Linked DNA regions of Homo sapiens. The protein of the gene in region 1 purifies or fractionates together with the protein of each later gene. This does not show direct contact. Each region holds a gene or a part of one and is shown in the gene's direction. Other genes may lie near its edges.

Region 1 (3,821 bases):
CAAATCTTGGTTTAGTCTTCTTTAAAACAAAAGGTTAGTGAATACATAGAATATTTTAATAGAATTAATCTCCTCATTGAAGAAAGGTTGCTTTGTTTCTAGTACAGAATATTCTGGTCAGGCGTGGTGGCTCACACCTGTAATTCCAGCAGTTTGGGGGGCCAAGACGGGTGGATCACCTGAGGTCAGGCGTTCGAAACCAGGCTGACCAACATGGAGAAAACCCATCTCTCCTAAAAATACAGAATTAACTGGGCATGGTGATGCATGCCTATAATCCCAGCTACTCAGGAGGCTGAGGCTGGAGAATCACTTGAACCTGGGAGGCAGAGGTGGTGGTGGGTTGAGATTGCACAATTATACTCCAGCTGGGGCAAGAAGAGAGTAACTCCATCTCAAAAATAATAATAATAATAAATCTAGGAGGGACAAAATACACAGCAGCAGGACATGTGGATCCTGGGGAGGAAATGACCTCTAGGGGATCAAGAAGGGAGGGCAAGTTAGCTCAGGTCAGATTAGGAAGGAGAAGCTGTCGATGCTCCAGGGAAACACTGTGTGGTGTGCCCTGTTTGAGATGGGTTACTTCATCTCAAAGAGGTTGCCTTAGCTAGAGGACCCAAGGCTCTGTCTTCTGAGGCCTTCCTGATGCCTTCCTTCACCATTTGCCTTCCCTCCACCATGGAGGATGGACTGGCAGCAGCTGAGTCTGTGCTGTGAACACACCTTTCCACACACGCCAGCCCCGTGTCCACAGCTCCAAGACCACCTGAGGGATTCACTCAGTGGAGCTCATGTGCTTATAGCGACTCTGTTTCCTAGGTGACCTGGAAGACCTGGAGGAGCATGGGCCAGGGCAGACAGTCTCTGAGGAAGCCACAGAAGTTCACACGGTAAAGTCGTCTTCTTTCCTCTGAAAAGGAAATTTTATTTCTCTCGGTTTCTCTGTTTCAATTGAATTAAGATGTATACATCTCACCATGTACACTATAGGTGACTGACAGAATTTCTTGGTGGGCAAATGTCAGCGTTCATTATCAACTAAAGAGTGGTTTCAGATGGCATCCACATTTACAAACTGTGTGTCAGCAGGCATTTACCTTAAGAGAAATGTCTTCTTGAGAAAAATTTGGAATTGTCAAACAAAAACAATGAAAATCTTGCACAAAAATCTTGTGCCTTTCCACGAATGTCTTCTAGATATCGGGGCCATTGTCTCAAGTACTATTTACCATCTGTTTTTTTAACATAAACAAGTGAAGAGAAGACCTGTGCACACAGGACACAGCCTGGTCTGATCCTCATAGTGTTTTGTTTTTCTCTAGATGGAGGGGGACCCAGACACACTGGCCGAATGTACGTATTCTGGGATCATCTCTTTGTTTAGGTTCAAAATATTAGAGTTGCAAAGATGGCACTGTTTTGCCTGCCTTTGTTCAAGAGCCACTCTGGTTTGAGCTGTCTGCCAGAAATGAGATTTGGGAAGTTTGGTTTAAAAGAATGCTAAGATCCAGTAAACCACTCTAACCATGCTACTGTCATCCCTGGAAGCAGCAGTGTCATCTAAGGTGGGGTGGTACATCAGGGATGGGAGGGACAGAGGAGACAGTCTGTATGGAATGATTGTGGATGTCTTTGGGAGTGTGTGTGCATTTCCCCAGAAAACACACTCCCATCTGCAAAGCACAACATGAGGATCAATGTTCAAGAAAAATTCCATCACCACTGCACAGTTTGCATAAATCAACCCATTCATCCTCCACCACAGCTGTACCTGAAGATAAGTTTAATATCCGCAGTCCTCAGATGGACATGCTGCAGAGTTGAATTTCCCAAGCTCTTGGTCTTTTAAATGGAAGAGGCACATGTGAACTCAGGGATGAGTGGAAGGTTAATGCCATGAGCTAGTACACTGAATTTGTCACAAAGCCCTGGTATAATTTCTTGCTAGGCCAAGTTATTCCAGCACTTCTGTGTGCATGTGGGAGAATGAAAACCTATTCAGATCCCAAACACTATCATTATCAGATGGTGTCAATGGTCATCTAACCCAGGGTTTGTTTGAGTAGGTACATTGCACAGTGGGCTTTAGTGTGATCATTAATGTAAAACACACAGAGTCCTCAGGCTTTTGGTCTACAGCGTTGAGGTCATTCCTCAGCTCCTGTTCAAAAGCAGACGATAATCAGTGCCATACTCTATTGTATTTGATGAGATAATCACGGCAAGTCTTAGAAGTTCAGTGGAACCCAATCCCAAGACATAGAATCCAATAAAAAAAAGTCAAGGCTCAACTTGGGTGTTAGCCGGGCACCCATTTTCCCTGCTGGAATCTCCTGCACAGCTGGATTGGAGAGGGTCAGTGCCCACCCCCCGCACCCCCTCGCTGCTCCCCATGACAGGCTGCTCCAGTGCTGGAGTCAGTGTGAGCATGGGGAGCAGTGAACATCATGCTACACACAAATTCTGTTGAAAAGGGAAAGTGGAAGAACAAATACCACATGCTAAGTAGGGGTCATCTTTAAATGGTAGGAAAATTATTTTCAAATCTTGGTTTATTTGCCTTGTACCAGAAAGTTAGTAATAAAATCTTTTGGCTAGAATTAAATCTCCTATTTTAAGAAAGGTTGCTTCTTATTCCGTACAAAATCTTCTAGAAGGGATGATAAACAGATCAGCAGCACATGTGGATTCTGAGGAGGAAATGACTTTGTCAGGGATCAATAAGAGGGCAAGTTAGCTCAGGTCAGATTAGGAAGGAGGAGCCCTAAGAGGCTGCCAGGGACACACAGCCTGCACTGCGTGGTGTGCACTGTTTGAGATTGGCTATTATATGTTTATGAGGTGGCCTGGAGCTAGGAAGCCAAAGGCCCTGATTCCCTTTCTTCCTGCATCTCTCCTGTGCCTGCTACCCTCCTCCCAAACCCACCTCAAGCAGTGTTACTGAATTGTTCATGAGCACCACCACCAAGGTGCTGATGGTCACTTTGTATCCTCCTAGTTCTGATCAGGGATGTACTTCAGGAGCTGTCCAGTTACAACGGTGAGGAGGAGGACCCAGAGGAGGTGAAGGTCAGGCCAACTGGATTTGTCTGAGAAAAAACTGTTGCTTTCTTAGCTTTATCTTATTTGGATTAAATTAAGATATGAGAATCTGAAGATATATATCTTAGTTACACAGTGTCCTTGAGGGAAATGGTAAGTGAGAGTCTGTCCCCACTGAGGCTTGATTTAAGACAGTGGGAGAAAATGACAGCATCAGTCACCTGTTGTGTAACAGTGAGCCTTACCAATTTTGTTCTCTTTGGAGCAAAATCAGCTACTTGCCAGCCAACATGGACTTCAGAGGAAACATCCTCTGAGAAAAATGTGTGTCTTTAGTATGAGTTGATTTGTTCGCTTCTTTGGGGTTCCTTTGAACACTGGGTTTTCCATCTTGTTTTCTAATGTCACTAAGTGAAGAAAAGTCCTGTGCTCACAGGACACAGCATGGTCTGATGCTCATAGCAATTTATTTTCTGTCGTTACAGACATCCTTGGGAGTTCCACAACGTGGTACGTATTGGGGAACCCCTCTCATACTGATGAGTAATCCAGATGTTGAGGAATGTGGCCCTGTCTCACAGGCTTTCCTGTAGACAGGCAGCCTGAGCTGAGCTTCATGTTGTGAATGAGGACCTAGACTGTGATGGGAGAAATGGTTTTCTAGATAAGAAACAGTGGCCACATTCTGCAGTCCCCGGGAGCAGCTGTGTTCTCTGAAGGTGGGGTGGGATCCCGTGCAAGGGGCCTGCTCATGTCTTTTGTGAATTCATGTGGTG
Region 2 (3,821 bases), on another chromosome or scaffold:
TTGAGACGGAGTCTCGCTCTGTCGCCCAGGCTGGAGTGCAGTGGTGCCATCTCGGCTCACTACAAGCTCCACTTCCTGGGTTCACGCCATTCTCCTGCCTCAACCTCCCGAGTAGCTGGGACCACAGGCGCCTGCCACCACGCCCGGCTAATTTTTTGTATTTTTTTAGTTGAGACGGGGTTTCACCGTGTTAGCCAGGATGGTCTCAATCTCCTGACCTGGTGATCCTCCCGCCTCGGCCTCCCAAAGTGAGGTTTTTGAGCTACTCAGTTTGCCTGAAATTTAGACATAGAGCTTAATGATCAAAGTTTAGACAGCACATAAGAAAATTTTTACCATATGTTACTTTGAACTCCCAGGAGCAGACAGGTTCAAGCGCTTCTTAGGGCCCCAGAGTCTTCAGCCCCTGCCCACCTTGCACTTACTGGAACTAAAACAAAACCAACCTAGTGGCTCATAAATCCTGCAGTTTTGGGGTATAACAATACAGCAGCTTTCTATTATGGGATTTGCTTCATTGTGTGACCTGTATTGCTATACCAGGAACCAGAAGGGTGGACAAAACACATGTATTTATTTAATAAATATTAGGTTGGTGCAAAAATAATTGTGGTTTTTGCCATTGAAAGTAATGGCAAAAACCGCAATTACTTTTGCACCAATCTATATATAGCCTTATTCCACAAAGAGAATATATTTCTTTAAATAAATGGATTTTTAAAAACTTTGGTAAAGACTGAGCATATATAATACCACATCATTATCGATGTTACATAAACTTAAAAGAAATAAAGAGATGGAGAGAATCAGCTTGCTATCTTTATTTCTTTATTTGCACTGGGAAATAACATCTTTGTCTACTATTTCTAGCATCTGAGATCCAGGTCAGTTGTGATTAATTTTTCTCTGTATTATGCAATGTATTTTCCTGCTTTTCATGCCTCTCTACTGGATGCTAGACATTGTACATTTTACCTTCTTGGGCACTGAATATTTTTGTAGTCCCAGAGGTACTTTTGAGCTTTGTCCTAGGATGCAGTGTGATCCTTTCAGGTCCTGCTGTATAGCTGTGTCAGGTGGCAGTGCCCATCTAGGGTTTCTCACTTGTGTTTTCTACCCAGTGCCCCATAAATCATGAGGTTTTCCAGCTAGGGTGGTGGGAACAGGCCCTACCCTAGGTCCTGTGTCAGCACCACTGTTCCTTCTAATCTTCTCACATGGCTCTTTCTCTGGCCTGAGGTGGTTCCTTACACACATGCGCTGATCAGTAGGGCTGTGCTGCCTAGTTGAGGGAGCTCCCTCTGGCCCCCGACTTAGATCTGTGTGTCTCTCTCCAGTACTGTGACCGCGAGTTCCGGCCACCTTAGTCTCCCTGGATCCCTGGCATTGTTTTCCTACTGCAGGGAGGCTGGCAGGCTCCACCTGGGTTCCCCCCGCATGCACACTGCAGCTGGGACCCTCCTCGGAGCATGAGCTGGACAATCACAGGGCTCCCCTCCTGAGTTTGCCCTCTCAAGAATCACTATCCTTCACTCCCTGGTATTTGGTGGCTTGCAAACCGTTGTTTCACATATTTTGTCCATTGTTTGCTTGTTTCATGCAGGAGGGAAAAGTCCAGTACCTGTTTCTCCATCTTAGCCATATGAGACTCTTAAATTATTATTTTTTTCCTTTCCTAGCACCAGAAAGTTTGATGCAGGCATTGGAAGACTTAGATTATCTGGCAGCACTGGATAATGATGGAAATCTTTCTGAATTTGGAATCATCATGTCAGAGTTTCCTCTTGATCCACAACTCTCGAAGTCTATCTTAGCGTCCTGTGAATTTGACTGTGTAGATGAAGTGCTAACAATCGCAGCCATGGTAACAGGTATCCTTAATGACTATTCCTTTTCTTTTTTTGCAAATCTGCACTAGGTATAGATTTAGATCGGATCCATTTGAAATTATATTTTGAGGAGCACAGAGCAGAGATAGTGATCAACTCATTTAACCTTTTGAAATGATAGTGAGGTATTTTAATAGGTTAGAAAAGGAAAATTTTCTTAATATGAAAAATTATCTTAAGAAAACTAACTCAAAGTTCAGCAAATTTATACATCAGATGTATGAAAACATACTAGATTTCTTTTGCTGAAATAATCAGTGCAGATGAAGAAAATGTGTCACTAGAGGTGTTTTTCCCCAAATAATGTTGTGTGCCTGTTTTTTATTTCCTATTGGCTTCATTCATCCTGGCTTGTATGTTTTAATTTATTCTAATACTGGGGGAACAGACCAACCATTGTGCTGTATCGGAACTGGTTCCAATCCTCTTCTTGTGTCTGGACCTCCAAGCACCTCAGGTTTTCCCTGCTCCTGCCGGAATAGAAGCAGGATATTAACCATATTCAGTTGACCTTAGAAAAGCAAACACACACACACAAAAGGAGAGGGAGAATTAGGATGACTCACTCTAAATTTCTGGGATTTCTAAGTAAACAAGAATAACATATTTATTCAGAGTACCAAGACAGGAGCCATGCCACTAACAGTCGTGACCCCTCCCCTCTGCATGTTAGGCTAAGATAAAATGTCTTCATTATTGCTAACCATGTGACCTTTTTCATTTTGAAGCTCCAAATTGCTTTTCACATGTGCCACATGGAGCTGAAGAGGCTGCCTTGACTTGTTGGAAGACATTTTTACATCCCGAAGGAGATCACTTTACCCTCATCAGCATTTACAAGGCTTACCAAGACACAACTCTGAATTCTAGCAGTGAGTGTAAGTGAATGCTCAGAAACTACCTATTAATTCCACCTTCCTTTCCCTAGATAAGTCTGAGTCCTTATTAGTTATTCATCAAACATTCTTCGCCAGCCCTACTGGCCACTTGAATGCAATGGCACTTGAGGCCCTAAACGCACCCACAGGCATCTGCAGAGTGGGAGATGCTCAGTCCCCCTGCTCCCACGGAGCTCTGGTGTGCCACCATGGCGGGCCTGTACTTCCAGAGCTCCAGGACTCCACTCAGCCAGCCTTCAGAGCAAGCTTGCTTGGGGCATGGTGACGGGGGACACAGACTCGTACATGGGTCTTTGGAGGAAGACAAGAACAGCCACCTCTACGTGCCCACTGTCAGAGTTGTGCTGTGCACCTTCCGTATCCTGGCACATTCACCACGTGCATGCAGAGAGGCTGCAGAGCTCCAGATACTAGTGCAGAATAGGTAGGCTGGGGTGCTGAGGGGAGGCTGCAGAGTTGCTGACGGAGCTTGATAGAGGAGAGCAGAGGGTGTCCAGAGAAGAGAATGGCGCATGTCAAAGCAAAGCCACAAAGTCCTTTGTATGCCTGAAGGGCAGTGGGTAGCTTACCTGTCACAGGAAGGTACTCAGAAGTCAACTGGAAGCTGCTATGCAGACAGAAACAAGAGGAGGGGGCAAACAGGGCAAAGCAGCATAGCAGAGGCTAGAGCCACCCATAAAGGGCAGCCAGTAAGGTCCCTCCCTGACATTTTCCATGAAGCATCTTTTACCTCCTTTGTTCTGAAAGATGGTGTGAAAATATGTGAAGTAGTGTGAAAAATATGACAGCAATTTGAAAGACAGAATTGTATAAAGAACAGGGAGTTAGTGTTTCAAAGCTGAGAAGAAAAAGTTGTCAGTGGAGCCAGCAGGTACACAGGAATCTGGTGGCACCTTTTGAGGGCATGCTGAATGGGTGACACTAAGTACATGCTGTGGTTGCTCCGAGCAGCATGAGTGGACAGGACAGGGTAAATGAGGGTCTTCTGTCCATGGTGCCATGGCCATGTACATTCCCAGGTCCATCTTAAGTA

What was found.
Region 2: the proteins of FAM153A (region 1) and DHX32 purify together in Homo sapiens (affinity purification with mass spectrometry; one large-scale study listed by BioGRID and IntAct). This does not show direct contact.

The regions. Positions count from the first base shown.
Region 1 is NC_000005.10:177,734,114-177,737,934, reverse strand, and holds part of FAM153A (protein FAM153A), read left to right. Parts: intron 1-822; coding exon 823-893; intron 894-1,325; coding exon 1,326-1,356; intron 1,357-3,001; coding exon 3,002-3,072; intron 3,073-3,530; coding exon 3,531-3,555; intron 3,556-3,821.
Region 2 is NC_000010.11:125,839,793-125,843,613, reverse strand, and holds part of DHX32 (putative pre-mRNA-splicing factor ATP-dependent RNA helicase DHX32), read left to right. Parts: intron 1-811; exon of another isoform or gene 812-1,679; coding exon 1,680-1,871; exon of another isoform or gene 1,872-2,254; coding exon of another isoform or gene 2,255-2,359; intron 2,360-2,617; coding exon 2,618-2,767; intron 2,768-3,821. Other genes in the region: BCCIP (BRCA2 and CDKN1A-interacting protein), read right to left, coding at 2,284-2,359.